Regions from separate parts of the Homo sapiens genome. Here region 2 is linked to region 1. Evidence: fine-mapped expression QTL. A gene starts in region 1. The other region holds a variant in brackets. All regions are shown on one strand. Distances are from middle to middle. Region 1 holds the start of TREX1 (three prime repair exonuclease 1). Region 2 holds the start of UQCRC1 (ubiquinol-cytochrome c reductase core protein 1).

Region 1 (10,892 bases):
ATCTCTGAGCTCAGCACTGCTGTTTCCTAGATCTGTTTCCATCTGAATATTTTTGGTTGGTCTGGCCCATGCTAAAGGTGGTACTCAGCTGGACACAGCACTGCAGTGTAGTGTGGGCAGTGGGATCAGGCAGACTCAGGACTCAAGTGCCCAGCAGGGGCCCAGCTCATAGTGGCTGTTTTTTTTTGTTGTTGTTTATTTGTTTGTTTTTGTTTTTGTTTTGAGACGAAGTTTTGCTCTTGTTGTCCAAGCTGGAGTGCAGTGGTGCGATCTCGGCTCACTGCAACCTCCACTTCCCAGGTTCAAGCAGTTCTCCTGCCTCAGCCTCCTGAGACGCTGAGATTACAGGCACCTGCCACCACACCTGGCTAATTTTTTATATTTTTAGTAGAGACAGGGTTTCACCATGTTGGCCAGGCTTGTCTCAAATGCCGGACCTCAGGTGATCCACCTGCCTTGGCCTGCCAAAGTGCAAGGATTACAGGCGTGAGCCACCGGGCCCAGCCTTGGTTATTTGTTTAATAATTGTTAAATGAATGAATCCCAGGCTGGGCACAGTGGCTCCTGCCTGTAATCTCAGCACTTTGGGAGGCCAAGGTGGGAGGATCACTTGAGCCCAGGAGTTTGAGACCAGCGTGGGCAACAAAGCAAGACTCCCAGCTCTACAATTTTTTTTTTTTTAATTAGCCAGGCATGGTGGCAGTGAGCTATGACCATGCCACTGCACTCCAGCCTAGGTGACAGAGTGAGACCCTATCTCAAAGAATCCCAGAAACCATGTTTTTACTGGTGGTAGACACACCATTATTCCACTCCTGTTGAGCTTGTCCACAGGGACATTCAAAACACAGCCACAGCTGGGCATTTATCTATTTCATGTACTGGGGCTCTTCATAAAATTTCATTTAAAGAGGTTCTTAGGGGCTGGGCATGGTGGCTCACGCCTGTAATCCCAGCACTTTAGGAAGCCGAGGTGGGTGGATCACGAGGTCAGGAGATCGAGACCATCCTGGCTAACATGGTGAAACCCCGTCTCTACTAAAAATACAAAAAAGTAGCTGGGCGTGGTGGCAGGCACCTGTAGTCCCAGCTACTCGGGAGGCTGAGGCAGGAGAATCGCTTGAACCCTGGAGGCGGAGGTTGCAGTGAGCTGAGTTTGCGCCACTGCACTCCAGCCTGGGTGACAGAGCGAGACTCAGTTTCAAAAAAAAAAAGTTCTTAACGCTATCAAAAAATAACTTGGAAACCACTGTGGTGTACATAAAAGTGGATTTTCCTTGCAGTACCTTCTGCAAGTGGCAGATATTGGACATCTTACAGCCCAATAATGAAACCAGGTAATAACCATGTTAAAATTCCAGCTTCCCACAAAGGGCTGCACACCCTGGCAACTAAAAAGCATTGAACTTTTTGTCTGCTGTGCAGGATTTGCCCTAAAGTGAGTTCACCCCACATAGTGAGACCTTGCTTCCTAAGGACACACTGAGGGATATCTTGACCTTCTGTGCTTAGAAACTGCAGATGTCTGAAGGGGTACACACCTGGCCAGACCCCATAGAGTGTTTCAGAATTGCCCTCCTCCCCACCCACCAGGCCAGTCCATCGTGCTCCCCCAGGCTATGTGGGTTGAGCAAACAGCAGCAGTTGCCTTGGGGCTTGGTTTATTGGGGTAATAGCTTTCCTTTTGCCCCTGAGACCTGGGGCAGTATGCCCAGAACCCCTCCCTCCTGCACACCCCACAGTAGGCACATTCTCCCACTGGCAGCAGATGTGTTTTCTGGCAAGTAGAGAAAATGGCTTTCCTTGCCCTGTGAGAGGTCTCATAAGATCCAGCCATAGCCAAGGCCATGTTTGTCACCTCTGGAGGCCTGGTCAGTCCTTCTGTGGGCACAGAACATTTCTCTCCCACCTAAGTTAGGACCTGCATCCCTGTTTGGGAGCATGTGGAAGCCAGGCATCCCAGATCCAGGAGGTCATCCCACTTCCTGGGCGATGCTACACCAGATAAGGGCCTGTCCTCTCAGCTGCAGCAGTCTTGCAGTGGAAGTGCCCACTTGTTCACATGAAACAAGTTTCATAGCAAGTAAGTAGGGGTCAGGCCAGCACTGAAACCCAAGTCTGGCTGAACCAACTCACCTGTTCATACTGACTTGCTCAATTTTCTGTTACCTCTAGTGGAGTGTGAAGGTAGGTTATGGAGCTGGGGTTGGGGAGTGTCACGTCTCTCTGGGTCCCTGTCTTTTAGGTTCCAGTGTGTGTTCCAAGTGCTGCCAAAGTGCCTCAGCCCAGAGACACCCCTGCCTAGCGTGCTGCTGGCTGTTGAGCTCCTCTCCCTGCTGGCGGACCACGACCAGCTGGCACCTCAGCTCTGTTCCCACTCAGGTAAAGCAGGGTGGGGCGGGCGTCTAGACTGCTCCTGCAGATCAAGGGAAGGGTTGGGGTGGGAACAGGGTCAAGGGCCTCAGAGGGCTTCTGCAGTATGTAGCCCACGCTCTTTATGAGAAAGGGCACCCTGAGTGAGAGGTGCGCTGTCCTTTTCAGAAGGCTGCCTCCTGCTGCTGCTGTACATGTACATCACATCACGGCCTGACAGAGTGGCCTTGGAGACACAATGGCTCCAGCTGGAACAAGAGGTAAAAACTCCAGAGCCCCTTCTGGACACTGTCCCCACCCCATCCTAAGAACCAACAGAATCTCCTTTCTTTCCGCTGAGGAGAAACGGAGCTTTAATTCATTTTAGTAACAAGAGTTGATAAAGCAACTAAAGAGGTAAACTCAGTTTGGGGGCTGTGCACCACACAGATGCAATGCAGACAGGACTTGGCAGAGTTGCCTGATGACTGATCCTGTCTTGGCTTTGGGACGTGGGGGCAGAATAGGGGGCTGGAGGCAGGTGGGTTGCTGGTGACACATGAGTGCTTGTCCTGGGTCTTCCCTGGGAAGGTCCCACACCACTTCTTGGACCCCATTTGTGCAGACAAACAGTTGCTGAAGCAAGTGAACTCTTATAGAAGCTTAAGAAAACCCTCGCAGGGACTGGTCTCCTTCTGCCCAGGATGGAACCAATCTGTTCTTGTTCTAGGTGGTGTGGCTCCTGGCTAAGCTTGGTGTGCAGAGCCCCTTGCCCCCAGTCACTGGCTCCAACTGCCAGTGTAATGTGGAGGTGAGTGGGTAGGGGCCAACAGCTGGCAGCTCTGGTGGTAAGGGGGCCCCGTGCAAGGACTGTAGGCCCCACTGCAAACCCCCTCACGTGAGGTGGCTAGGCTGAGCGGATTGTTAGGGTGCAGGCCATGGTGGCACCAGGCCTCAGTCTGCACCCCCCCTCTCTCAGGTGGTCAGAGCGCTCACGGTGATGTTGCACAGACAGTGGCTGACAGTGCGGAGGGCAGGGGGACCCCCAAGGACCGACCAGCAGAGGCGGACAGTGCGCTGTCTGCGGGACACGGTGCTGCTGCTGCACGGCCTATCGCAGAAGGACAAGCTCTTCATGATGCACTGCGTGGAGGTCCTGCATCAGTTTGACCAGGTGATGCCGGGGGTCAGCATGCTCATCCGAGGGCTTCCTGATGTGACGGACTGTGAAGGTAAGCCTGCCAGAGGCCATCCTGCCCAGCCCCCATGGCTTCTTCCAGAGGTTCCCCAACAAGTCAGATTCCTGGGTGTCCCCTCAGCAGGCCCCCGCCCACTGCAGCCTGTTCCAGCACTGGGGCCATTTTCTTTTATCTTCCTGCCTCAGTTCTTCTCCAAGCATATTGGGATGCCTTTTGCATCTATCTGTTGAGTGTGCCTGGCAGAGCCACGGTTTTTCCAGAAATAGCCGTGTCTGAATTGCCTTTGTATCACTTTGTTTGCAGTAGCTGAGGGAGCAGGGCCTGGGTGTGGAAGGGACTGGTTAGTTCCTGCGGACGTTGGGGGAGGAGAGGTGGGACCTGCCCTAGGCCCTGGCACCTTTGGGCCCTCACCAGGAACCTCTCCTTTTTGTCTCAGAGGCAGCCCTGGATGACCTCTGTGCCGCGGAAACCGATGTGGAAGACCCCGAGGTGGAGTGTGGCTGAGGCCCTGAGTGTCCAGCCACATGGTGGCACCAGCACCACTCCTTTCCTTACCACATCAACTGATTAAAGCAGTGACCAGCAGGAACTGCCCAGAGAACTGGCTGGCCTTGTTTCCTGAGTCTGATCTGTTTGGCGGAGTGGGAGGGGTGGAGCAGGACCCGGACCCTGAGTGGCTGGGATCCTTCTTCCTGTCCCTGGCTGTTGCTGAGCCCGTCCCCATGGTAACTGATCTGCCTTGAGGAAGGAGCCCTGCCCTGCCTGTGGAATTGTCCTGAGTCATTGCTTTGGGCTGGGGCCATGGGAAGAAACCATTGTGTGGCAGGGAAGGAGGTGGCTCTTGGCCCAGGCCTAAACCAGGAAAGCCTGGGAAACTGGGACCCACAGGTGGGCATGAAAGGGCCGCAGCAGGGGCTCCCAGCAGTGTGTAAGACCGGGAGCTGGTCTGGCACCACTGCCCTGGTCCTTCCAGCTGCCTGTCACTGGTATGATGGCCCCGGTGCATTGTGCCACCAGCAGGCCACAGCTGTGGATCTTGGAAGGCCTCTGGGGTCCCCCGGGAGCAGGGGAGTGGGTGTGGGGGGGAACGGATGGTGGTGAGAGGGACAGACCAGGCAGGCTGACGAGCAGGGCGGGCCTGGCTCACGTGGGCCTGTAGGCGGGCCCACGCCAAGTTTCACTTCCCGCCACTGCTGCCAGCGAGAGCCGCGGGAGAGTGTGCAGCCGAGTCACTACTGCCTGCCTGCCTGCCTGCTACGGTGAGTGTGGCCCCCACAATGGGATGGCGCAGGGCAGGAGGGCCATGGGTTCCCCCACCCCAGACTAAGGGGGCACTAGGGGAGGGGCCGAGTCATGTGAAGAGGGAGACCCTCTCAGACAGTCGAATGTGCTGGTCCCACTAAGGAAACCACCTCACCCTCTCCAACTTCCTGCCTGAAAATGGGCCCTGGAGCTCGCAGACAGGGCAGGATTGTGCAGGGAAGGCCTGAGATGTGCTTCTGCCCACCCCCTACCCCACTCCCTCCCCTTCGGATCTTAACACTGGGCACTCACACACCCACCCCATGCTCCTCTCCAGGCTCAGCAGCAGGTACGTACCCAACCATGGGCTCGCAGGCCCTGCCCCCGGGGCCCATGCAGACCCTCATCTTTTTCGACATGGAGGCCACTGGCTTGCCCTTCTCCCAGCCCAAGGTCACGGAGCTGTGCCTGCTGGCTGTCCACAGATGTGCCCTGGAGAGCCCCCCCACCTCTCAGGGGCCACCTCCCACAGTTCCTCCACCACCGCGTGTGGTAGACAAGCTCTCCCTGTGTGTGGCTCCGGGGAAGGCCTGCAGCCCTGCAGCCAGCGAGATCACAGGTCTGAGCACAGCTGTGCTGGCAGCGCATGGGCGTCAATGTTTTGATGACAACCTGGCCAACCTGCTCCTAGCCTTCCTGCGGCGCCAGCCACAGCCCTGGTGCCTGGTGGCACACAATGGTGACCGCTACGACTTCCCCCTGCTCCAAGCAGAGCTGGCTATGCTGGGCCTCACCAGTGCTCTGGATGGTGCCTTCTGTGTGGATAGCATCACTGCGCTGAAGGCCCTGGAGCGAGCAAGCAGCCCCTCAGAACACGGCCCAAGGAAGAGCTATAGCCTAGGCAGCATCTACACTCGCCTGTATGGGCAGTCCCCTCCAGACTCGCACACGGCTGAGGGTGATGTCCTGGCCCTGCTCAGCATCTGTCAGTGGAGACCACAGGCCCTGCTGCGGTGGGTGGATGCTCACGCCAGGCCTTTCGGCACCATCAGGCCCATGTATGGGGTCACAGCCTCTGCTAGGACCAAGCCAAGACCATCTGCTGTCACAACCACTGCACACCTGGCCACAACCAGGAACACTAGTCCCAGCCTTGGAGAGAGCAGGGGTACCAAGGATCTTCCTCCAGTGAAGGACCCTGGAGCCCTATCCAGGGAGGGGCTGCTGGCCCCACTGGGTCTGCTGGCCATCCTGACCTTGGCAGTAGCCACACTGTATGGACTATCCCTGGCCACACCTGGGGAGTAGGCCAAGAAGGAAAATCTGACGAATAAAGACCCCCGCTGCCCCATAGCACTGAGTGGTCAATTGGCTCCTACCCTTCTTGGCAGCACAGACCTCTGCCCACACCCAGGGACCTGGGGAGGAGGGCACAGTGTTTGTCCCTCACTTTCCCTAGCAGGATGGTCAACTATCTGAGCCCAGTAAAAGTAGGGAAAACACAGAGAAGCCCAAATGGATGGAAAGAGTACAGCCTGATTCCAATTCCAGCAGCCGAGGCCAGGAAGAAAGGGGGCAGCAGCTCCAAACGATTGCATTTATTATAAACAAGTGTACAGACCCTAGACTCAGAAACACAACAGATTTGAGCTAAGACAGCTCTGGTGAAACAGTAATAGAGGGAGGAGGAACACGAGGTATTCATGTCTGGGCCAGAGCTGCCATCCAGGGCCCCACACCCCACCTTTGGTCCAGATGGCCCATTGGCCCAGGTGTCCCTGCTGCCAGAACACCGTGGACTGGGGTACAGGAGTTGTTGCATATTCCATGAGGCTGGTGTCGGGAAGCAGGGACTCACAGTTGCCAGGTTGTCCATCTCTGAGCCAATTTCCCTCCACAACCCAGGGGTTTCAGTCTCATATCAACTATCATGTTTGAAACAGAAAACAGGCAAAATGTTTGGCTAAAATAAAATGAAAACACTGCAGGGAAGAGAACTGAGTGTGCTGGTGGACAGGAGCCCTGCTCACCTGTGGGAAGGGCAGGGCCAGCAAGGGCAGCAGAGCTCCCTGGGGGCAGCTAGGCTGTGTGTGCATGTGGCCCTCCAGCTGGTCCCAGGGGAGATGCGGGGACAGGGGACAGTCCAGGCAGACAGGTACAGCTGAGTAGGGCTCTGCCTGAGGTGTTCTGGCATCAGGAGGCTGCCTGATCCCCAACAGGCATGACAGGCTCCAGGGAGCAATGGGACATCTGCCCAAAGGATCAAAGTCCAACTTGGCCAGATCCCAAGCTTCGCCTGCATCATGTCCCTGGCTCTGCAACGGGTACCCCCAACTCCGGGGACGAGCCATGGCCTCAAGCAGCAGCTGGCTACGCTGCCGAAACCAGGACACATCTGCATCACACAGAAAGCTGCGCCACCCTGGTGTGACAGGCCCTACTTGGTCACCCTAGGGTAAGCTGGAGAAGAACTCCAGATGTGCCCTGGAGAGGCCCCCACCTCTCAGGGGCCACCTCACAGGGTGCCCCCCACCACCCCATTCTTTGAGTTTGGCTTGAGATTTTAGGAAGCATAATTTCAGGTGAGGAAGAGAACAAAGTCTGGTCCCAGCCCACTCTGGCAAGGATTGTTCCCCACCTTGTCAGCATCAGAGGAAGCCACATATACAGGCAGGACACACACAGCACACATGGGGCGTAAGGAACCGTGCCTGGACACACACAGCACACATGGGGCGTAAGGAACCGCGCCTGCACACCACTCACGCACACACACAACATAACCAAGTGGCAGCCAGAGAGGCCAGGGAATGCTCAGAGGGCCGCCTTCGGGGCATCCATGTAGGCCGGGTTGTAAGGAGGCTGGCTGGCGGGGTAGGGCGCGGCTGCTCCTCCTGAAAGCAGAGAGGACCCTGGTTGGCTGTGAGCATGGTGGGCTGCCGTGTGAGTGGCAGGCAAGCAGAAAGGGGCAGAGGCCTGTTGAGTGATGTAGTTTGGGATGGGTGCCCGAGGGATGCTGGCAGAGACTCGGGAAGTCGGGCAGGGCTAGAGTTGGCAGGGGCACTCACCAGCCAGGGTCTCGTGGTAGGCCGGTGGGCCCATGGGCTGGGCTGGGTAAGGTGGTGGGTACTGCATTGGGTAGGGTGCTGCTGGCATCCCTGGCTGAGGCGGCATGGTGTGGTAGCCCTGGTAGCTTGGTCCAGGGTAGCTGGGCGGCACACTTGGAGGCTGAGGATAAGGGGCATGCACCACAGTGGTGGATGTGGTGGTGGTGACAACCGCTGCAAAGAGAATTCCAGTCAGGACCCTCCTCCATCTCCCCAGGTCTTGAGAGCCAGGCTTGCCACCCATCCCTCCAGCTTAGCCAAAGCAGGGCCTGGTCAGCTTCCCTTACCACCCCAGGGGGTCACAGTGGGGCAGGGTGGGCACGCTTACGACGTGGTCGGCGGCACGTCTTGTAAAGGCAGCAGCAGGAGCAGGTGAAGCAGATGATGATAGTGACGACAGACAGCACAAAGATGGTCAGGCCAACGGCCAAGGTCGCTCCGAACCTGCCAAAGAGCTAGACGTGACCCGGGGCACCTCGCCCCTCCCCAGACCAGCATCCACACCTTCCCAAGGCATGCCCCTCTTGCCAGAAGGGGTCTGGGCAATACAGTTATAGCTACTTCCTTGTCGGGTGGCCTGCACCTGTTTCAATCTGTTTCCTCTTGTGTAAACTGGGGTATATGTGAGTCCCTGTAACTGTCTCTCCCTGGGTCTCCCCCGCTTGTCCCACCCTCAGAGGCATGGGAGGAAGCTCTTCAAGTCCCATGCCACACACATACATCTATCTTGTCCACCTCACAACCAACTGATCAGCAGATGGGTATAGGGCACATGCCACAAGCCAGGCACTGTGATTTGAGTCAAAAAACTTAACAGTGGGCAAGACAGCCAGCCCTGGCCTCTGGGAGCCCACAGTCCAGTGTAGGAGGCAGACAGTGAAGATAACATGGCTCACAAAGCACAGGGTGAAGACTGAGAGAAGCCCCAGGAGGGCAGAGGCCAGTGTGGCCAGAACAGGAGGCCCCCATTGTTCCCCTGCACTCCACAACAGCCCCAGGGCAGGGAGGCTGGCCCCTGAGTGATAAGGACAGTTGCCTCTGCCTGCAAGCTTGCTGTATGCCAAGCACCGTGCCAGGGGTCACACACACCCCTGGGTCCCCCACCTCTGACCTGCATGGCCACTTCCACAGGTGAGAGGGCCAAGAGCCAAGGGGAGGACACAGAGGCCTGGAGGCAGGAGGCCAGAGGGCCTGCCCTTTGAGAAAGCAGGCCCTGGGCTGGGAAGCTCACCAAAATTGACTTCTAGGAGGGGGCAGTGGCTCATGCCTGCAATCTCAGCACTTTGGGAGGCCGAGGAGGGCGGATCACCTGAGGTGAGGTGTTCGAGACCAGCCTGGCCAACATGGTGAAACCCTGTCTCTACTAAAAATACAAAAATTAGTCGGGCACGGTGGCGGGTGCCTGTAATCCCAGCTACTTGGGAGGCTGAGGCAGGAGAATCGCTTGAACCCGAGAGGCAGAGGTTGCATTCAGCCAAGATCACGCCATTGCACTCCAGCCTGGGGACAGGAGCAAAACTCTGTCTCAAAAATGAAAGAAAAAAAAAAAAACCTGACTTCCAAATGCAGACAGAGCCCCTTACTAGCCACCCTGCCGTGTTTGCAGAGGCCAAGCTTCATTCTTTTTCTTTTTTAATTTATTTTTTGAGACAGGGTCTCACTCTGTTGCCCAGGCTGGAGTGCAGTGATATGATCACAGTTCACTGCAGCCTCCACCTCCCAGGCTCAAGTGATTCTCCCACCTCAGCCTCCCCAGTAGCTGGAACCACAGGCATGCACTACCACATTTATTTTTGCAGAGACAGGGGTCTCACTATGTTACCTAACTGGTTTCCAACTCCTGGCCTCAAGCAATCTTCCCTCCTCGGCCTCTCAAAGTGCTGAGATTAAAACTGTCTCGTGGCCAGGGTGCGGTGGCTCATGCCTGTAATCCCAGCACTTTGGGAGGCCGAGATGGGCGGATCACAAGGTTAGCAGTTTGAGACCAGCTTGGTCAACATGGTGAAACCCCGTCTCTACTAAAAATTAGCCGGTAGTCCCAACTACTCAGGAGGCTGAGGCAGGAGAATCGCTTGAACCCAGGAGGTGGAGGTTGTAGTGAGCCAAGATCGCACCACTGCACTCCAGCCTGGGGGACAGAGTGAGACTCTGTCTCAAAAAAAAAAAAAAAAAAAAAAAAGTCAGCCTTACATTTTGTACTGGATGATAAAAGATTTTAAAAAATAAAAAACGGTTGGGTGCGGTGGCTCACACCTGTAATCCCAGTACTTTGGGAGGCCGAGGCAGGTGGATCACCTGAGGTCTGGAATTCGAGAAAGTATAAAAAAAATTAGCCGGACATGATGGTGGGTGCTTGCAATCCCAGCTACTTGGGAGGCTAAGGCAGGAGAATCTCTTGAACCCAAGGAGGCAGAGATTGCAGTGAGCCAAGATCACACCATTGCACTCCAGCCTAGGCAACAAAAGCGAAACTCCATCTCAAAAAAGTAAATAAATAAAAAATAAAAATAAAAAACTGGCCAGGCGCGGTGGCAACACTTCTAGAGGCCGAAGTGGGCGGATCGCTTGAGGTCAGGAGTTCTAGACTACCCTGGCTAACATGGTAAAACCCTGTCTCTACTAAAAATACAAAAATTAGCAGGGCGTAGTGGCGCAAAACTGTAGTCCCAGCTACTCAGGAGGCTGAGGCAGGAGAATCGCTTGAACCAAGGAGGGAGGTTGCAGTGAGCTAAGATTGTGCCACTGCACTCCAGCCTGAGCAACAGTGGGAGACTCCGTCTCAAAAAATTAAAAAATAAAATAAATAGGCCAGGCGCAGTGGTTCATGCCTGTAATCCTAACACTTTGGGAGGCCGAGGCAGGCGGATCGCCTGAGGTCAGGAATTTGAGACCAGCCTGGGCAACATAGTGAAACCCCATCTCTACTAAAATACAAAAAAAAAAAGAATTAGCCGGGCGTGGTGGCACGTGCCTGTGGTCCCAGCTACTGGGG
Region 2 (15,132 bases), 150 kb after region 1:
TACCTGGTCTCACCAGCATACAAATCCTTAAATTCACTCTCAATTTTCAGTTAATTATTTGTTTTTGTCTAAGCATACAACATATCATTTGCAAATAACAACTTATTTTTTCCTTTCTAAAAATTACACGCTGCCTTTGTTCTGGCAATGATTTTATCCTTTCATCATTAAGGAAGGGACTATTGGTTTAGACTGTATATTTTATCACACTAAATATTGTTCCTATAATATCTTTTTTGTTGTTGTTTTTAATCAGCTCTGAACACCAAACAGTGTTGCCTTGGCACCCAATAAGGTAATATTAATTTTCTTGACAGCCTCCTGGTTGCTGTGAAACACGCACCACAGGCTGGGCGCGGTGGCTTATACCTGTAATCCCAGCACTTTGGGAGGCCAAGGCAGGTGGATTACGAGGTCAGCAGTTCGAGACCAGCCTGGCCAATATAGTGAAACCCTGTCTCTACTAAAAATACAAAAATTAGCCAGGTGTGGTGGCACGTGCCTGTAGTCCTAGCTACTTGGGAGGCTGAGGCAGAATTGCTTGAACCCAAGAGGCAGAGGATGTAGTGAGCCAAGATCGTGCCACTGCACTCCAGCCTGGGTGACAGAGAGACTCCATCTCAAAAAAAAAAAAAAAATGTAAAAGAAACACGTACCACTCACCCCACTTGGTCACACGGTCTAGTCTTTTAATTTACTATTTGTTCACAGCTGATTTAAGTTTTTCACATCTACTTTCCTAAGTACTTTTTTTTTTTTTTGACATGGAGTCTCACTCTGTCACGAGACGAGTGCAGTGGTGTGATGTCGGCTCACTCAACCTCTGCTTCCTGGGTTCAAGTGATTCTCCCGCCTCAGCCTCCCGAGTAGCTGGAACTACAGGCGTGCACCACCACGCCCAGCTAATTTTTGTTTTTTTGTGTGTGTGTGTTTTTTTTTTGAGACGGAGTCTCGCTCTGTCACCCAGGCTGGAGTGCAGTGGTGCGATCTTGGCTCACTGCAAGCTCTGCCTCCCAGGTTCATGGCATTCTCCTGCCTCAGCCTCCCGAGTAGCTGGAACTACAGGCGCCCGCCACCACGCCCGGCTAATTTTTTGTATTTTTAGTAGAGACGGGGTTTCACCGTGTTAGCCAGGATGGTCTCAATCTCCTGACCTTGTGATTCGCCCGCCTCGGCCTCCCAAAGTGCTGGGATTACAGGCGTGAGCCACCGCGTCTAGCCTAATTTTTGTATTTTTAGTAGAGGCGGGGTTTCACCATGTTGGCCAGGATGGTCTCAATCTCTTGACCTCGTGATCCGCCTGCCTCGGTCTCCCAAAGTGCTGGGATTATAGGCATGAGCCACTGCGCCCAGCCAAGACTTTTTTTTATTGTATAAATTTATGGGGTACAAGCACAATTTTTAGAAATTTCTATCCACACCTGAAACTCCATTTTTTTCTTTTTTTTTTTTTTTAAGACAGAGGGCCTTGCTCTGTCACCCAGGCCAGAGTACAGTGACATAATCATGGCTCACTGCAACCTCTTATTCCTGGGCTCAATCGATCCTCCTGCTTTGGCCTCTCAAAGCCCTGGAATTACTGGTGTAAGCCACTGTGCCCCGCCCACAAGTGTGATGTCATTACAGGCACAGAATGCACAAGTAGTCAAATCAGGGATTCTGAATTATCCATCACCAGAATAACAAACCTTGTACCCATTAAGTAATTTCTTTTTTTTTTTTTGAGATGGACTCTCGCTCTCTCACCCAGGCTGGAGTGCAGTGGCTCCATCTCGGCTCACTGCAATCTCTGCCTCCCGGGTTCAAGCGATTCTCTTGCCTCAGTCTCCCCAGGAGCTGGGATTACAGGCGTGTGCCATGCATGGCTAATTTTTGTATTTTTAGTAGAGATGGGGCTTCACTATGTTTGCCAGGCTGGTCTTGAACTCCTGGCCTCAGCTGATCCGCCTGCCTTGGTCTCCCAAAGTGCTGAGATTACAGGTGTGAGCCTCCAGGCCTGGACCCATTAAGTAGTTTCTCATCATCCACCCCTTCATCCTTCCAAGTCTTCACTGTCCATCATTCCACTCTCTACATCTGTATGTACGTATTTTTTAGCTCCCACTGATAAGTGAGAACATGTGATATTTGCTTTCCTAAGAGATGTCAATGCATATACCATATATCACACAATCTTAGATGAACATGTATTTCACATCTAACATCTTGGAATGCAAGAGGCATTTTACAATCTATAGTATCCTTTGATTAAAATTGGCAAGATTCTTGAGATTCTTTCTCTGGCACTGGAGCACAGACAGCTCCTTACAATCTAGCACATTTTAGAGTTCATGTAATATAGCATTCTTTACTATAACAAGTGACATATAACAAGGAAGTTGCAGGCCACCTTTTCCTATGCTTAGTAACAATTTAAATCGCAGGACATTGTTTCTGGAAAACTAAAAGGATGTGTCAATAAAAACATCTGGCCCTGGGGCTGGGGGCTGAAAGGAGGAGGAGATAATTATTTCTTGGGAATCTTCTCACCTATTCATATATCTATCTGTGACTCAAGATTTCTTGTGTCAATTTAGAGAATTTGTATTTTTTGGAAAATCACACATTTCATTGTACTGTTAAAATGCATTTGCTTCCTAAAATGTATTTCTGGTCTAGCCTGGAGATTATGACCTTGGGCAGTGAGGCTGACAGACCTGGACCCCTGCAAGTCACCTAAGGTGTCTGAATCCCATTTTCCGCATTATAAGAGGAGACATGATCACTTCCCTTATATGGGCTCCTTAACAAAAGGCTGGAAAAGAATTTGGCCGCCTACTTAACGGGCATTATATGCTAAATAATGTTGGCTTATAGTGAAGATTGTCCCGTGAAGCCAAGGCGTGGCTAGGGTAGGGAATGGGGCCATTCTCGGGGTGAGTGGTCCTGGGTCCGAACCCAAACCACAAACGGGAAGACTCGAGCCCAAGGTCACACCCCAACCAGGGAAAAGACGGCAGGCCCAACCTGGAGGCCCTCTCCCCAAAAGCGTCCCCAACTCACCGTGCAAGTGGGCTGAGAGGACTGCTCGGAGGCCACACGCAGGCCGTTGTCCAGCAGGCTAACCTGCGTCTCCGGCACGAACTGGAGCGCCTGAGCGAAGGTTGCCGTACTCCGCAAGGCTGGCGTCCGCAGCAGGGCCGGCTGTGGAAGGGAACAGCCGCGAGTGAGGACTCGGTCAGGGGATCGCTCCCCACCTCCCAGGTCCTCAGGAGGACCCCCGAACCCCGCCCCTAGGCAAGCGGCGAGATACCTTTCCCCGCCCTCCGCCGTGACCTTCCCACGGCCCTGACCCCGCGTCCTCCCCACCTCGACCTGCCACTGCTAACAGCCCACACCTGTCCGCTTCCCGAAGCCCTGTCCCGAAGCCCCGCGCTCTCGCCACCACCTCACCGAGCGGCGGGCGCGCAATAGCACTTGTGCCCCGGCGGTAGCGGCCCGACAGACCACGGACGCCGCCATCTTCCAGCTGCAGTCGGCCCTGTTGCGCCGCGCAAGCGTAGACTGGGCGCGTTGGCGGTCGCGGCGCAGGCGCAGTACCGTACAGTTGGTGCTCGGCCGCCTCCTGGCGGGAACCGGGACAGTCTATTGTGCTGGCCTGGCTTTGGCTGACTGGCTCTGACCGCGCTGCCGCCAGTCCCTGCGCACATCAGTCCACCTGCCGTCCATCAGCCCGAGCAGGTCCGCCCGCCGTGCAGTCCATCTCCCCATTCCACGCGTGGAAGTCAGAGTGCATTATGTTTCTCACCAGCCGCGCTGCGTACTGAGGTCTGGCGGGCGGGGAGTTGCAGCCACAGCGTGTCCGCAGGTTCGAGCCCAGGGCTAAAGTACCAGCGTGGAAACTTACCTGGGACCACAAGTTGGTGCTGAAAGTCAGTATTTTTTTCTCTTTATTTATTTTTTATTTTCTGAGACAGGGTCTCGCTCTGTCGCCCAGGCTGGAGTGCAATGGCGCGATCTCGGCTCACTGCAACCTCCGCCTCCCGGCTTCAAGCGATTCTCCTGCCTCAGCCTCCCGAGTAGCTGGGATTATGCCCGGTAATTTTTGTTTCTTTAGAAGAGACAAGGTTTCTCCATGTTGGCCAGTTTTGCGCCCTGCCAGTTTTCTCTTTAAAAGAACTAAGTACAGGCCGGGAGCGGTGGCTCACTCCTGTAATCCCAACACTTTGGGAGGCCGAGGCAGGTGGATCACTTGAGGCGAGGAGTCCAAGACCAGCCTGGCCAACATGGTGAAACCTTTCCTTTTCTGTAAGAGGAAAAAGAATTCTGGCTGGGTGCAGTGGCTCATGCCTGTAATCCCAGCACTTTGGAAGGCCGAGGTGGGCGGATCACCTGAGGTCGGGAATTTGAGACCAGCCTGACCGACATGGAGAAACCCCGTCTCTACTAAAAATACAAAAGTAGACGGGCGTGGTGGCGCATGCCTGTAATCCTAGCTACTCCAGAGGCTGAGGCAGGAGAATCACTTGAACCCGGGAGGCGGAGGTTGCGGTGAGCCGAGATCGCGCCATTTCCAGCCTGGGCAACAAGAGCGAAACTCCGTCTCAAAAAAAAAAAAAAAAAAAAAAAAAGACTTCTAAGGTATGCTTTGTTATGTCAACTAAAGAAAAAAAAAAACAAGCTTTTAAATATTTAAAGTTAGTTCTATTCAGAAGTCTTACCAAGAATTGCAACCCGGGAGAGCCTTTCAGGGAGTTTCTGCTAGACTGCTCCAAAGCAGTGTTTCCGACAGTTTATACACTGGTGGTGGCGGCTCTCCATGTGCTCAGAAATTACATCAAATGTGCTCAGAAGTTACATTAGAGCATAAATCTCATCAAGGTTTGGGTGCAAGAGTACATCTGTTTATAGGTCACAGAAGCATAATCATTAATCCTGTCAGACAGTATCTTAAGTACAGGAAGAGGCAAGGGCTAGGATCATTGCATTTTTTACCATGTTGGCCAGGCTGATATCAAACTCCTGGCCTCAAGCAATCCACCCACCTCAGCCTCCCAAAGTGCTAGGATTACAGGGGTGAGCCACCACACCTTACCCAAAAACTACTCTTATACTTAAAATAAAACTATCTTTATAAAAATCATGCCAGATGCCATGACCACAGGCTCTCACACCACACCCAGCTAATTTTTTTTTATTTTTTGTGGAGACGGGGGTCTCATTATGTTGCCCAGGCTGATCTTAAACTCCTGAGCTCAAGTGATCCTCCTACCTCAGCCTCCCAAAGTGCTGGGATTACAGTCATGAGCCACCGTGCCAGGCTGACTTTATTTCTTATAAAGGGTTACAACCTGCAGGCTGGGAGGTGGGCTTCTGGTCAAAACCAGAGACAGACCCTTAAAAAGAGGCAGGAGCTTTATGTCGAATGGCTTGGCTAAACATACATATTCGGCCGGGCACGGTGGCTCACACCTGTAATCCCAAACTTTGGGAGGCCGAGGTGGGCGGATCACAAGGTCAGGAGATTGAGACCATCCTGGCTAACATGGTGAAACCCCGTCTCTACTAAAAATACAAAAAATCTGCCAGGCATGATGGCATGTGCCTATAATCCCAGCTACTCGGGAAGCTGAGGCAGAAGAATCGCTTGAACCTGGGAGGCGGAGGTTGCAGTGAGCCGAGATCGCGCCACTGCACTCCAGCCTGGGTGACAGAGCGAGACTCTGTCTCAAAAAAGAAAAAACAAAAACAAAAAATACCATATTCAACAGGTTACAGGAAGAGCTATAGATACTCATGAAGGGGGTCCTAATGCAAGTATACTGAATAAACATGTGTGTTGTATATGACCCATGTTCACTTTGGGGTGGAGACTTAACATTGAAATACATTACAGGCCGGGTGCGGTGGCTCACGCCTATAATC[T/C]CAGCACTTTGGGAAGCCGAGGTGGGTGGCTCACGAGGTCAGAAGATCAAGACCATCCTGGCCAACACAGTAAAACCCCGTCTCTACTAAAAATACAAAAATTAGCTGGGCGTGGTGGCGTATGCCTGTAGTCCCAGCTACTCAGGAGGGTGAGGAAGGAGAATCACTTGAAACCGGGAAGCGGAGGTTGCAGTGAGCCAAGATCGCACCACTGCACTCCAGCCTGGGCTACAGAGGGAGACTCCATCTCAAAAAAAAAAAAAAAAAAGAAAAGAAATACAATTAGCACCATATGTCAAAATGAAGGATACAAAAGCACTCAGTGCACAGGTTCCATAAACCAACTGAAGCCAGTCCCTGGTCAGTGGTCTCTTATTAGGAAAAAGTCACCAAAATCCATCTCTTGTGCAATCAAAGCTATAGTTATGGCTTGTGGGGTCAGTGTCTGGTGATGGATGAACTGCAATTGTTTCTATATTGCTTATCTCAAGGCCAGTGCTTGTTTAGCTGCTGGAGAAAAAGAAAAACCTTGCAGCAGTTAGAACATAGTTTATTCTTTGGTGAACGGCTTAACTCTTGCCTGGCATGGCCTTAATGTCTTGTTTATACTTTGGTATCTTATTGCTACAAAGGGTTCATTCTCTCAGTCTTATGATCTCTATTTTTTTCTTTCTTTTTTGAGACAGAGTCTCATTCTGTCACCCAGGCTGGAGTGCAGTGGCAGGATCTCTGCTCACTGCAACCTCCATCTCCCAGGTTCAAGCAATTCTCCTGCCTCGGCCTCCCGAGTAGCTGGAACTGCAGGCACATGCCAACATCGCTAATTTTTGACAGAGTCTCATTCTGTCACCCAGGCTGAAGTGCAGTGGCGTGATCTTGGCTCACTGCAACCTCAGCCTCCTGGATTCAAGCAATTCTCCTGCCTCAGCCTTCCAAGTAGCTGGGACGCCACACGCCACCATGCCCTGGCTCAAGTGATCCTTCTACCTCAGGCTCCTGAGTAGCTGGGAACACAGGTGCACACCATCATACCCAGCTAACTTTTATATTTTTTGTAGAGACAGGATTTCACTATGTGGCCCAGGCTGGTCTCAAACTCCAGGCTCAAGTGAGCCTCCTGCCTTGGCCTCCCAAAGTGCTGGGACTACAGATGTGAGCCACCGCCCCTGGACGTGATCTCTTTTTTTTTTTTTTTTGAGATGGAGTCTCGCTCTGTTGCCAGGCTGGAGTGCAGTGGCATGATCTTGGCTCACTGCAACATCCGCCTCCTGGGTTCAAGCGATTCTCCTGCCTCAGGCTCCCAAGTAGCTGGGACTAAGGCATGTGCCACCACACCCAGCTAATTTTTGTAGTTTTAGTAGAGATGGGATTTCACCATGTTGGCCAGGATGGTCTCGATCTCTTGACCTCGTGATCTGCCAAAGTGCTGGGATTACAGGCATGAGCTACCACGCCCGACCTTTTTTATTTTTGAGACCGAGTTTCGCTCTTGTTGCCCAGGTTGGAGTGCAATGGCGCAATCTTATCAGCAACCTCTGCCTCCCGGGTTCAAGCGATGCTCATGCCTCAGTCTCCCGAGTAGCTGGGACTACAGGCATGTGCCATCACGCCTAGCTAATTTTGTATTTTTAGTAGAGATGGGGTTTCTCCATGTTAGTCAGGCTGGTCTCAAACTCCCAACCTCAGGTGATCCACCCACCTTGGCCTCCCAAAGTGCTGGGATTACAGGTGTGAGCCACCGCACCCGGCCTGCCTGCTTCCTTTCCTTCCTTCCTTCCTTCCCTCCCTCCTTCCTTTCCTTCCTTCCTTCCTCCCTTCCTTTCTCTCTCTTTCTTTTTTTTTTTTGAGAGGGTCTGGCTTTCTGTCACTCAGGCTGGAATGCAGTGGTGTGATCATGGCTCACTGCAGCCTCAACCTTCCAGCTCAAGCCATCTTCCCACTCCAGCCTCCTGAGTAGCTGGAACTATATAGGCATGCACCATCACACCCAGCTAATTTTTAAAAACATTTTTCTAGAGATGGGGTCTCACTATATTCCCCAGTCTGGTCTTGAACTCCTAGGCTCAAGTGATCCTCCCACCTCAGCCTCCCAAATGAAATATTCCTAAACCCAGTCACCTAGCCTCCCTACCTATACCCACTGCTACCCTGGGCTAAGAAGGGAAGGCCATTGAAGTAGGAGACAACTAGGAAGTCTGATGCTGGTTGGGAACGATGCGTTTCAAGGGGTTGGTCAAAACAGGAAATATTACTAAAAGGTTAAGTGCAAGCAGTGATCATTGCAATAATTTTGCAACAGTGTTTGGTGACTCATTGATTCTCTGGAATTTACTTGGTATATAGAGTGAGGTAAGGTCAAAATATCCTCTCTCCCCCTAAAAGGCAAACTAAATTTTGTAACACCGTTTCTTGATGAGGCCCTGTTTCCCTACCCATCTCTGTTGTTCCCTCTATCATCCCATAGATTCTCAAACTTGTACCAGGTCCATGCAGGCTGTGTTCTGTAGGGAGGGCTCTGGCACTCAACTTACCCTTCTTACTCTGTTTGATACATTCACCTATTTATTCTTCTAGATGTTTCTTTTTATTTTTTAAATTTACTTTTAATTTTTTTAAATAGAGATGGGATTTTGCCACATTACCCAGCTTGGTCTCGAACTCCTGGGCTCAAGTGATTCTCCTGCCTTGGTCTCACAAAGTGCTGGGATTACAGGCATGAGCCACTGCACGCAGCTTTTTTTTTTTTTTTTTTTTTGAGACGGAGTTTGCTCTTGTTGCTCAGGTTGGATGGAGTGCAGTGGTGTGATCTAGGCTCACTGCAACCTCCACCTCCTGGTTCAAGCAAGTCTCATGCCTCAGCCTCCCAAGTAGCTGGGATTACAGGGGCCTGTCTCCATGCACAGATAGTTTTTGTATTTTTAGTAGAGACAAGGTTTCACCATCTTGACCAGGCTGGTCTCGAACTCCTGACCTCAGGTGATCCGCCCACCTCAGCCTCCCAAAGTCCTGGGATTACAGGCGTGAGCCACCACGCCTGCCTGTTCTATTCATTATTGAAAGTGGGGGGTTGAAATATGAACTATAATTGTAGAGCTGACTACTTTCAATTCTGATAATTTTTGTTTCATTATTTTTGGGGCTCCGTTAGGCACATAAATGTTTCTAATTGTCATATTGCCTTGTTTTGAAACTTTTATTAGGTGGGTGGATCACCTCAGGTCAGGAGTTCAAGACCAGCCTGACCAACATGGATAAACCCCGTCTCTACTAAAAATACAAAATTAGTAGGGCATGGTGGCGCATGCCTGTAATCCCAGCTACTCAGGAGGCTGAGGCAGGAGAATTGCTTGAACCCGGGAGGCAGAGGCTGTGGTGAGCCAAGATCATGCCATTGCACTCCAGCCTGGGCAACAAGAGCGAAACTCTGTCTCAAAAAAAAAAAAAGGCTGGGCGCAGTGGCTTACGCCTGTAATCCCAGCACTTTGGGAGGCCAAGGCAGGAAGATCACGAGGTCAGGAGACAGAGACCATCCTGGCTAACACAGTGAAACCCCGTCTCTACTAAAAATACAAAAAAAATGCCGGGCGCGGTGGCTCACGCCTGTAATCCCAGCACTTTGGGAGGCCGAGGCGGGCGGATCACGAGGTCAGGAGATCGAGACCATCCCGGCTAAAACGGTGAAACCCCGTCTCTACTAAAAATACAAAAAATTAGCCGGGCGTAGTGGCGGGCGCCTGTAGTCCCAGCTACTTGGGAGGCTGAGGCAGGAGAATGGCGTGAACCCGGGAGGCAGAGCTTGCAGTGAGCCGAGATCCCGCCACTGCACTCCAGCCTGGGCGACAGAGCGAGACTCCGTCTCAAAAAAAAAAAAAAAAAAAAAAAAGTACAAAAAAAATTAGCTGGGTATGGTGGCAGACACCTGTAGTCCCGGCTACTCAGGAAGCCGAGGCTGGAGAATGGCATGAACCCAGGAGGCAGAGGTTGCAGTGAGCCGAGATTGCGCCACTGCACTCCTGCCTAGGCGACAAAGTGAGACTCCGTCTCAAAAAAAAAAAGCAATTTTTATCAATAGATAACGTCCTTCTTTGTCTCTTGTAATCTTTTTGATTTAGAGGCTACTATACCTGACAATAATAAAGCCACCTTGACTCTCTTCTGGTTGCTATTTGCATGAAGTATTTTTTTTTCTTTTTCTTTTTCTTTTTTTCTTTCTTGAAACAGAGTCTCACTCTGTTGCCCCAGGCTAGAGTGCAGTGGTGTGATCATGACTCACTGCAGCTTTGACCTTCCTGAGATCAGGTGATCCTCCCACCTCAGCCTCCGGGGTAGCTGGGACTAAAGGTGCACACCACCATGCCCAGCTAATTTTTTGTGTTTTTTGTAGAAATGGGGTTTTGCCTTGTTGCCCAGGCTGGTCTCAAACTCTTTAAGCAATCCACCTGCCTCAGCCTCCCAAAGTGCTGGGATTACAGGTGTAAGCCACCATGCCAGGCCATAAAATATTTCTTCCATCCTTTTACTTCTGGTGTTTTTATGTTCTTATATCTGAAGTGAGTCTCTGATAGACAACATATAGATTAACCTTTTTTAAAAAACCAATCTGAAAATTCATTTATTAATAGGAGAGTTTAATCTATTTATATTTAATGAGATTACTGACAAATGATTTGCTTTCAGGTTCAGAATTTGTTTGGTCCCTTTAAAATTTTTCTCTGTATTAATTTTTTTTTTTTTTTTTTTTTTGAGACAGAGTCTTGCTCTTTCACCCAGGCCACAGTGCAGTGGCACTCTTGGCTCGCTGCAAGCTCTGCCTCCCCAGTTCATGCCATTCTCCTGCCTCAGCCTCCCGAGTAGCTGGGACTACAGGTGCCCACCACTGTGCCCGGCTAATTTTTTGTATTTTTAGTAGAGATGGGGTTTCACTGTGTTAGCCAGGATGGTCTTGATCTCCTGACCTCGTGATCCACCCACCTAGGCCTCCCAAAGTGCTGGGATTACAGGCATGAGCCACCGCGCCCGGCCCTCTTTATTAGTATTCTTTATGTTCAGACATAATTTTCCTAATTTCCTTTAGTTCTTTGTCCATGGCTTCCCTTAGTTCATTGAACATACTAAGACAGTTGATTTATTGTTTTTGATTAATAATTCCAATGCCTGGGCTTCCTGAGGGATACTTCCCATCACAATCTCTTTTTCAGCCAGGTGCAGTGGCTCATGCCTATGATCTCAGAACTTTGGGAGGCTGAGGTGGGAGAGTCATTTGAGTTCAGGAGTTTGAGACCAGGGCAACATAGTGAGACCCTGTCTCTCTTTTGACTCCAGCCCACTTCCCCTCACTTGGAGGACATCAGAGAGGCTGTGGCATTTTCGGGGTCCAGCCAAAGGGAAGGTGGGTTGAAGATGGTCCCAGGTTGGGTTCTCTAGGAATCCAACTCCAAGAGGAAGATCAGAGCACAAGATATTTACAAGAGTCCCTTGAGATGAGCACCTCAGGGAAGGAGGGAAAGGGTTGGGCAAGGAAGAAGTCTGGCTATAGGGGCTCTGCCACAGCCAGAGTGGACCTGTCTGCTGGCCGTCCCCTGAGTGGCTGGCAGCAGCTGGCCTTTGTGTGGCATATCTCTGAGTCTACCACAGGGACACACTGGGTGTTATAAGTAAAATGTTTATTCAGAAACAGAATGCTGTTCTTCAGTACCGCAAGGAAAAATTAGCATTGAGACAAAAAGTTTTCTCAGCAAGGCAAATTTACTTTCTGCAGAAAGGGTGCTCCTTGCAGATGAAACAATGGTGAGAGCACACTTGAACAAAGGAGGGAAGCAATTTTTATTCTTTATGCAGCTTGTCCTTGCTACTGTGTCCTGCCTCCATTGGCTGGAGACGGACTGCACAATCTAAGCTAAACTTGACCGGCTAATAACTTAAAATTTTCTTAAATAGGTAAAGGCAAGGGAGAACAAAGGAAAAGAGGAAATTGCTTACGAAAGGACTTAGAAGGACTTAGAAAAGTAATAACATTTCTTTTTTTCTTTTTTTTCTTTTTTGAGATGGAGTCTTGCTCTGTCGCCCAGGCTGGAGTGCAATGGCATGATCTCGGCTCACTGCAAGCTCTGCCATGGGTTCACGCCATTCTTCTGCCTCAGCTTCCGGAGTAGCTGGGACTACAGGCACCCACCACCATGCCTGGCTAATCTTTTTTGCATTTTTGGTAGAGGCGGGGTTTCACTGTGTTAACCAGGATGGTCTTGATCTCCTGACCTCATGATCTGCCCGCCTCAGCCTCCCAAAGTGCTGGGATAACAGGCGTGAGTCACTGCACCCAGCCAAAAGTAATAACATTTCGAAATAAGGAAGGCACATAGGCTGCAAGCTGGAATGTGCCTGTGAGCATGTCCAGCACAAATATTTTGGTTAAAGTACAAGGACACAGAATGTACTTATTTCTTTATATCTAACAGCTACATAAGATAGGGCTTAACAAAGAGTTATTAGCACAAAGTGAGGAGGCTTAAAGGAAGTTAGTCTTTAAAAGAAACTATTATTTGTAACACTTATAATTTATTCTTTAACAAGAAGGGAAACTTTGAAGAGGAACTTTTTTTTTTTTACTTTCTACACCAGGTTAAGAGGGACATATTTATGTGGTTTGCTCCACCCTTGTGTAAAGTTAGTTTATTGGTCTTGTTCTAGAATAAACTAGGAATGTGGCTCGTAGGAAAATCCTGCTGGGTAAGGACAGAAGTGCAAAGTCCTATTGCCTTAAGGACATGCCCCACGGCACCCAGTGCTGGGAAAACTGTGAGCCATGGAAGGAAAACAAGGTTTGAAATGCGTGGAGCCAGAACCTCGTCTGTGGAAAATTCTTCCAAATTTCATAGTTCCTATATGAAAGAAGGCTGATGACAGTTTCTCAAATTTTACAACAATCCAGAACATTTGTATGGCACCGTCAACAACAGATTAGGAAGTTTAACTTTCCTAAACTACCAATAATTAAAACACAAATTTCAACCATGTTAGGAGGAAGACTGAAGTATCTTTTCTCTGTATGGAAAATATCTCCCCCAAAAATCACAAAATCCTTGTCCTCTGTAGAGGCCTTCAGAGTAAGAAGCCAGACCATGTAGGGGACCAAGGTATTAGAAATATGTCAGGAAGTTGCCACAAGTTATGTTATTTTTCTGGATTTAGTATTGTAGTATTTGTCAATTTAAAAAAAAAGTTTTCAAAAAAAAGTATCATCATTTCTTTTCTCATTATTTTAATTCACTTCCATTTTTGAATTCATAACGTTGTTGCCTTTTTCTAAAGCAGGAACCTGGGACAGGCACTGTGGCTCATACCTGTCATCCCAGCACTTTGAGAGGCAGAGGCAAGAGGATCAGTTGAAGCCAGCCTGGGCAAGATAGACTCCATCTCTACAAATATATATATATTTTTTAATTAGCTGGGTATGGTGATGTATGCCTATAGTCTCAGCTACTTGGGAGGCCAAGGCAGGAGGATTGCTTGAGTTCGTCAAAAAAACAAAAAGAAACAATTTTTAAAAAGGGGAAAAAGAAAGAGAAAGGGATTAAAGTGAGGGTCCCTTCTTTTCCAGGGTCCTTAGAGCAAGGGCGGCTGAGGCACTAGAGCATGTTTGAGACTGCCATAGAAACAAAGGCAGCTAGGGCGGCCTGCCTGACCCCAGGTTGGGGCTGCTGGAGCCAAGAATCTGGGGAGGGGCTGTTATTGGAGACAGAGCAGTGGCCTCTCAAGGGAGGGCCTTGCAGGGCCTGGGAAGAAGGAAGCCAGAGCCAGCTGCTGTTTGATGGCAGGACTAAAGTCACCTCCCTGAGGTGGTGACAAGGATGGGTGAAGCCAAAGGGTGTGCGACTCCACAGTGATGGGGGCTTGGGGCTCTCAGTCCCCCATCAGAGATCCTCAGCATCTGGTTCCAGCTTCACCACTGCCCCCACCCCTCTTCTCAGCTGACCAGGTCCCTCCTCAGCTCACCCTGTGCACTGGAGAGGCCCAGTACCCTCACTCAGCACTTGAGGCCCTTTATCATGTGCACTGCCCACCTTGCCCATGTGCAGAGAGTACCAAACACAGCACGTGGCTTTTGCTCAGAACCAGACCGCCACCTGGATTTCCCTTCCTCACACCCATTTCCCCTCAGGGCTCAGCCAGGTTGTTGGCTCCTCTGGGCAACCCTTCCTGAGCCACCCAAGCCTGTCCCGTTGGTAAGTCCTCTCCCATCACACAGGGAGTCCCCAGGTACTGGTCAGGCCAGAGGAGCAGTTTTTGTTTGTTTTGAGACAAGTTCTTGCTCTGTCACCCAGGCTGGAGTACAGTGGCACAATCTTGGCTCACTGCAACCACTGCCTGCCAGGCTCAAGCCATCCTCCCACCTCAGCTTCCTGAGTAGTTGGTACTACAGGCACACACCACTATGTGTGTGCTCAGCTAATTTTTGTTTGTTTGTTTGTATTTTTCGTAGGGATGGGGTTGCCATGTTGCCCAGGCTGGTCTCGAACTCTTGAGCTCAAATGATCCTCCCACCTCGGCCTCTCAAAGCGCTGGGATTACGGGTGTGAGCCACCACGCCCAGCCCAGAGGAGCAGTTGTGTCTCCAGGAGGGATCCTTAGGGAGGAAAGGTCAGTTGGTGGGGGCAATGGAGCAGTGTGAGCCAGCCTATGCCCCACCTGCCCGCCCGTCCTGGACACCAAGTCAGCTGACTCTAAAAGCTGAAAAGGGACACACGGTCCAGACAGGCCTGGAAAGAGCAGACCTGGCCCAGGACCTCAGGCTGTCAGGCAAAGAGAGGCACATGTTCGGTCACCCACTCTGGGTGGAAGTCCCCTTTATTTGGATTTGCCGCTGGGTGGCTAGATGACGTAGGTGGCCTTCGATGTGGACCAGGAGGGCATCCAGCATGTGCAGGACCCCACGGAGCAGGGTGTGGTCTGAGATTGGGGCCCGCCGTTTCCAGGGTCCGCAGGGCTCAGTGGTCACCTGCGGATGCTGAGACCAGGACCAAGAGGCAGGAGTGAGAATGGTGGGCAGAGAGGGAGATGTGACAAGGGGCAGTGATGGAGCTGGGGAGCAGGGAGTAGGGTGTGGGGCAGTGCCCAGATGGGATGGGAGGGAGACTCAGGGTGATAGAGGATCACCGAGGGTCTGTTGTGGGCTACAGTGGTCATGGGGCCCACAGGGGCTGGATGAGAGCAGGGGTACTAAAGGGGAGA

What was found.
Region 2: its variant is fine-mapped to the expression of TREX1 in whole blood (TOPMed, PIP 0.98).

What each region holds. Positions count from the first base shown.
Region 1 is chr3:48,461,500-48,472,391 of GRCh38, forward strand. TREX1 (three prime repair exonuclease 1) reads left to right here and starts at 4,731. Exons shown (of 2, transcript NM_033629.6): 1 at 4,731-4,810; 2 at 5,131-6,146. The coding sequence starts at 5,157. The coding sequence ends at 6,101. It overlaps ATRIP (ATR interacting protein), which reads left to right. Exons shown (of 13, transcript NM_130384.3): 9 at 2,246-2,382; 10 at 2,542-2,633; 11 at 3,083-3,163; 12 at 3,332-3,584; 13 at 3,988-6,146. The coding sequence ends at 4,055. SHISA5 (shisa family member 5) reads right to left here. Exons shown (of 6, transcript NM_016479.6): 4 at 8,229-8,344; 5 at 7,862-8,074; 6 at 6,377-7,687. The coding sequence ends at 7,608. ATRIP-TREX1 (ATRIP-TREX1 readthrough) reads left to right here. Exons shown (of 15, transcript NR_153405.1): 10 at 2,246-2,382; 11 at 2,542-2,633; 12 at 3,083-3,163; 13 at 3,332-3,584; 14 at 3,988-4,810; 15 at 5,131-6,146. RefSeq lists enhancers at 3,957-4,046, 4,659-5,540, 5,127-5,326, 5,541-6,420, 6,562-7,328 and 1 more.
Region 2 is chr3:48,606,120-48,621,251 of GRCh38, forward strand. UQCRC1 (ubiquinol-cytochrome c reductase core protein 1) reads right to left here and starts at 3,527. Exons shown (of 13, transcript NM_003365.3): 1 at 3,433-3,527; 2 at 3,043-3,183. The coding sequence starts at 3,501. It overlaps TMEM89 (transmembrane protein 89), which reads right to left. Exons shown (of 2, transcript NM_001008269.3): 2 at 14,640-14,908. The coding sequence ends at 14,723. RefSeq lists a silencer at 3,148-3,247 and enhancers at 3,418-3,517, 3,597-4,111, 3,808-3,917, 7,627-8,126. The variant T/C (reference allele first, on the strand shown) is at 5,905.